Regions from separate parts of the Homo sapiens genome. Here region 1 is linked to region 2. Evidence: fine-mapped expression QTL. A gene starts in region 2. The other region holds a variant in brackets. All regions are shown on one strand. Distances are between the middles of the regions. Region 1 overlaps CLTCL1 (clathrin heavy chain like 1). Region 2 holds the start of CLTCL1 (clathrin heavy chain like 1).

Region 1 (2,855 bases), 110 kb after region 2:
GCAGTGAGACAGTCCCCAAGGCCCACAGAGGAGGAACAGAGCAGGGCCCACTTTAGGCACATGTGGAAGACAAGTCAGCAAGGGTAGGCTGGGCCGGTGGAGGGCACGGCAGGGAGACAGATGAGCGGGCGTCACAGGTCCTCAAAGCGGAGACCCAAAGGCACCTGGAGCTCTCACCTGAGGGTCAGAATCCTGGTGCCTTTGTAGGAACAGTGTGGGTCAGGAGGCAGCGATCGATGAGCAGCATGCCAGCGGGGGAGACTTCTTTCCGGAGCCAGCTCAGCACATCGGGTCCATGCAGATGTGGGCACTGGGCGTCCTCAGGGGTCTCCCAAACGGAACTCAGAGGTGTGTGCTGCAGGCGATGGCAGGCATGCAGAGCTGGGACCGCCACAGGGTATCCCTGGAGAGCACAGGTCACAGTCAGTGGATCATGGCCAACTCCAGGTGGAGTGGCCCTGGGCAAGTGACTACATCTGGGTCTCAGGTTCCTGGTCTCTGAATGGGGTACTAATAGCCCCTGCCATAGAAGGAATCAGGTGATCCAGTGCCTGCTGTGGAGCTAGAAAATAGAGAATGGCCACAGAAAGTGCAGGCTTCTTCAGGACTGGTCAGGTGCAGGTGTTATTTTGTCAATGATATTGTCTTAGACAAATACATTTGCAAGGATGAAAATAGCAGTTAGGGGTTTTTGAGCCACTTGAAAGAAAAACACATTGCTGTTTCTAGAGCAGTAGCCGTACCCCTCCTAACTGCTCCCCTGGTGTCACACGCTCCATGGACCTGAGTGCAGCACCTCTGCAGCAGCCCCACAACCCCCAAACTCCCATCAGTGCCTTCCTCAGAGCAGCCTGTGCACGCCCTCTGCCCTCGGGGCTAGAGTTCCTGTCTCCCAGGGCACCTGCGCCTCCGTGAGCCACCTGTCCCCTCCAGAGCCTCCGGAGGTGGCATCTCCGTTTCACCAGTGGGCAGCAGGGCATAGGGAATGGCCCAGCCATGGGTCCAGGCTTGCTCCACAGCGCAGGAAGTCCTTGGTGGAGTCTAGTGCCACTCCCTGCCCTCCGGCCCAGCTGCTGCAGGCACAAAGCCTCTGCCTGCAGGATGCCCAAGCAAGCATTTGCCTTGGCTGCAGGATGCCATGCAGCATGCTGCAGAGTCGCGGGATGCTGAGCTGGCCCAGAAGTTGCTGCAGTGGTTCCTGGAGGAAGGCAAGAGGGAGTGCTTCGCAGCTTGTCTCTTCACCTGCTATGACCTGCTTCGCCCAGACATGGTGCTTGAGCTGGCCTGGAGGCACAACCTCGTGGACTTGGCCATGCCCTACTTCATCCAGGTGATGAGGGAGTACCTGAGCAAGGTAGGTGCCGGGC[C/T]GGCTGCAGCTCCCCGGCCCCTGTGTGGCATGACCCAACCCTGGCAGTGACTCTGGCCGCAGGTCTTAAGGGTGGGCCCCTTTGAGGCCAACCCAGATTCCCCAGCCAGCCCTGGCTGCCTTCAGGAGTGGCTGCTTTCCTTCATGCTGAAGTGGTTTTCTGCCCAACGTTAAGCCCCTCCAGAAAATCATCATGGGGAGTGCCCACTGGCAGCAGCCCTCCTGTAGACTCTGGCTGGGCAGCTGTCCCAATGTGCACACTGCTAGGAGCACAACAGGCGTGCTCATCCCCAGCCCTGGACTTCAACAAGGTGACAGTGAGGTGGCTGGCAATCCCAGCTCCCTGAGGAGCTCCCAGTGGCGTCTGGGGGTGCAGCTGTTAGCATACGGTTGGTGGTAGCTGCCTTTTGCTGAACACATAGTAGGAGTATTCACAGATCCACTGAATCCTTCTAACAGCTATAGGGAGGATGACTCTCTGCCTCATCGAAGTGACAGTACTTGATTGTAAAACTCTCCCTGGGTGTTGAAGTCCTAGGAGTCCCTGCTGGGATCTAGCTTTAGCCACTGTCCAGAGACCTGTGTCAGCAGTGTCATCTGGTACAGTTTGTTGTTTCTAACACTGGAAAAGCTACTTCCAGTAGCATCTACTTGCCTATCTAACCTCCTTCAAGCCAGATGGAGAGCCTCGGAAGGCACTCATGCTGAAGCATCACTCAGTGGAGCGAGGGAAGGGAGGGGCCTCCCAGGTGAGTGGGAGGTAGGAAGGAAACAGGAAGGCGGGCTCATGCTGCCAGCTTTAGCCTGGAGGGCTGCCTGCCGCCTGCAGAGCCTCCAGGGGGCTGCCCAGCCCCTGATAAAGGCCATCCCAGAGTCCATTCAAGGCCGTTGCCCTCCTGTAGGACAGTGTGACCCCATCCCATCTGCATAGCATGCCTGAGTGAGACTCCCTGATGACTCTCAAGGGTTGGGGAGGAAGGGACAGCCCTGGCTACGTGGCCTGAGATTCGTGGGCTGCCAGGGGACATGGACTGGTTGGATTGACAAGGGCCCTGGTTCCCCCACCACAGTGGATGGCAACTCCCTACAGGCGGCACGTGTGGTATGTGGTTTGTGGTATGCAGTGTGTGGTGTGCGGTGTCTGGTGCGTGCCTGTGGAAGCTGCTGTCACCATGATGAGCAGGTTTTCCCATCCCTCGGGTGTCTTTCCTGAAAGTAGTCTGTGTTCTGAGAACCAGCACAAGGAAAGAAAGTGCTTGAATCTCTTCCTGGCAGTAGAGGCCCGTGGGTTAGTGTCAGAGGAACTCAGGCTCACCAGGCCCTAGGGAGTGTCATTGCTGTGGGGGTCAAAGTGCTTGTGGGGATCCCCCAGGACTTTGAGGCGCACATTCCCTTTCTGTTGCGGATGATGGAGTTAGCAGCCACTATCACGTTGGTCCACACTGTGGCTGCACAGCCTTGGCCCAGGGTTCCCAGACTCCACTGGCCC
Region 2 (2,906 bases):
ACCATCCTTGTCTTATTCAAGGTGGGCCGTTCATTTCTTAAAATTACCAGTGAGCAACATGGGAAGCAGCAGAGACGGCTATCGATTACCCCGTAGGGAGTGCCTGTGCTGAATGCCAAGGGCTTCCCTTTCCTGACAGACATCTTTTATGCAGCTGAATCATCTGTATGCAAAACATCAGCCAACGGTGCCTCGGAAAAACAACTGGCTGCTGGGCAAACCAGGTGTGGGCTCCAGCTTCCACCTGCTACTACTGTCGTGCAGCCACGGGCACTCTGGGTGATCCTCACTGGCCTGGGGCTGGTCATCTGCTGCTAGATGACCTTCGCTGACTCTCTACATTGATATTCCGACACAGTGTTCTCTAGAAACCGCATGAGCCAGGAAAGGTGTTTCCTAAAGGAGCAGGGGCCGAGCCTCACGCCGAAACACGTCTGTAACACGTACAGTCACGCGTCCCATGCATCCATGCATTCTGAGACATGCGTCTCGGTTGTGGGATCATCACAAGGTAACTTACACAAACTCAGATGGCACAGCCACTACACAACTAGGCAGCTGATGCGGTCCGCTGCTGCTAGGCCGCAAACCCGCACCGCGTGTGAGGTGCGTTATTCCCCTGGCACGGTAATGACATACCTGTACGTGTATCTCCAAATACAGGAGAGGAAATGTCCTTAGCTAAGCCCTCACCAGAGGACAGGAAGTTTCCAGCTCCGTTATCATGTTATGGGACCACCGTCATATACACGGTCCTCCTCAGACCAAAAGGTCGTTCGTTATACGGCACATGTGGTTCTTCCAAGACCCTTTTCCATCTTTCTGTCACATCCGTGCCTGAGTAAAAAGTGGCCCTGAACTCAACCGTCCAGAGTTGGCGGCAGAACTAGCACCACTGGCCCGCTCCACATGTGGAAGGCGCTGGGCAAGGGCCGCCGCAGACCCCATCAGGATTAATCCCCCGAAAACCTTTCACTCGGGTAGCTGGCACACACCGCGTCAGGGCAGAGGGCGCGCGGGACTACTTTCCGCGGACCCTCGGAGCGGGCGGAGGGATCCGCGCAGGCGGGACGGGGCAGAGGCGGGGGCAGGGGCGGGGGCAGGGGCGGGGGCAGGGGCGGGGCAGAGGCGGGGCAGGGGCGGGGCAGGGGCGGGGGAAGGGGCGGGGAAAGGGGGTGCGGGCCGGGGCGCGGTCAGGGAGGAGGGCGGGGGCCAGGACCGGGAGCTCGGGGCACTGCGCCTGCGCCGTCGCCACCGGTCAGCCCGCGCGAGGGGTCGGCGTTCATTCCTGCCGCTGCCGCCGCCGCCGCCGAGGTCCCGCACCAGCCATGGCGCAGATCCTCCCTGTTCGCTTTCAGGAGCACTTCCAGGTGAGGCCCGGCGGGCTGGGGGGCTGCCCTGTCAGCCGCGCCTCCGCCGGGCCGGACTGCCAGGCTTGACCCCGCGCCCCCAGCCCCGCTGAGCCGCTGCCCAGCTGGCCGCGCCGATTTCCGACCTCCCACCTGGGCTGGGGCTGCGGCGTCCCGGGCGCGGCGGCCGCTCCTGAGGACCCGCTTGGGTGCCGTCGCCGAAGCCCGTTACCGGCGGGGCCGGCTGGGGAATGGTGGGGGTGGAAGCCAACGCCCCCTGGGACGCCCCGCTCAGTGCCCGCGAGGAGGCACACAAATTCCCGCTGCAGGCAGGGCAACCCAAGGGCCGCGCGGATCCCACAGCTCCACGCCCCTCCTTGGCGTCCTGCGGTCCTTATTCGCCCCTGAGTTTGCCTCTGTGATCGGTTTTCGTCCCCAGGGCGGCTTCGCCTGGGAGGACCGTGAACATGCGTGACCCAAGAGAAAAATTTCTCAGGGCCAAGCCTAAATAGGGCTTTTCAATGCAGTAACACCCCCAAAGCCTGCCTTTTTAATAAGGTCCCAGTTTGTTCTCCATTTGTTTGTGTTCAGAAACATAAGGACTGGCCCCCTGCTTTGAGCAAAGGCTCAGGTCGGGCGTCGTGCGGGCCGCTCGCGGGTCTGCCCGGGAGCGGTGCTGGTCCCCACGTTTACCCTGGGAGGTGCGGCAGAGGAGGGATAGCCAGCGGCTCCTCCCTGAGTGCTCTGTGTTAAATCATCACACTACCATTCGTTGCGATTCGCTTACTCTTTTCTAGATGAGGAAACCGAGTCTCAAAAGTGTTAAAGAACTCATCTTCATTCAATAAGAACAGGATTCAGACTCAAGTCTTTTTGACCACAAAGTAGTACATCGAGGAACGTGCTTGCTTGAAAGTTCCTATTTTCACAGTGCAGAGCACTGTTAGCCCTAGATGCAGACGGGAAAAGCCTTGGGAACTGTGTAGTGCAGTCCAGTCCCCTCATTCTGCAGACTGGAAACTTGATATCCAGGGGATCCTGCCAGGGTCACTTGGTTAGTGACACAGTGGAAGTTGTATGGAGGTGGGAGTGCCCTGACATCTGTCCGGGCTTCATTCTGCCACTAAGCTAAGCCAGCACCAGTCATGTTGAGGTAGCAAAATACTGCTGCTGCTCATAATAATGATGATGATGTAGTTATCATTTACTGAGCCGTTTCTCTTGCCACTCACTAGACTACTGTATTTTATAAATCTGGTTTAATTTAATCCTCATGATAACTGAGGCAGATAGTGATATCCTGTTTTCTACCATGGGTCACTGAGGTTAATATTCTAATTCCTTCAGCAAAAGTTACATGGCTAGTAAGTGACAAAGCTTGAGTTCTAACCCAGGTCTGATTCCAATGCCTGTGCTTAACCACTATCTAAATATGTTCTTTTCAAAGGGCAAGAAAGCAACAAGATATTTTAGGTGTCCATCAGAGTTTCTAATGTCCATCAGGATTTGTAATGTCCATCAGAGTTGATATGTTCCATTATCTGGAAAATGCTTGTG

What was found.
Region 1: its variant is fine-mapped to the expression of CLTCL1 in neutrophils (BLUEPRINT, PIP 0.95).

Annotation. Positions count from the first base shown.
Region 1 is chr22:19,181,889-19,184,743 of GRCh38, reverse strand. CLTCL1 (clathrin heavy chain like 1) reads left to right here. Exons shown (of 33, transcript NM_007098.4): 30 at 1,133-1,354. Among named protein-coding and RNA genes, the nearest start is that of SLC25A1, 4.6 kb to the right of the region's middle. The variant C/T (reference allele first, on the strand shown) is at 1,368.
Region 2 is chr22:19,290,064-19,292,969 of GRCh38, reverse strand. CLTCL1 (clathrin heavy chain like 1) reads left to right here and starts at 1,251. Exons shown (of 33, transcript NM_007098.4): 1 at 1,251-1,370. The coding sequence starts at 1,329. It overlaps LOC105372859 (a long non-coding RNA gene), which reads right to left and starts at 1,023. Exons shown (of 6, transcript XR_938002.3): 1 at 640-1,023. RefSeq lists silencers at 1,133-1,372, 1,254-1,438 and an enhancer at 1,549-2,062.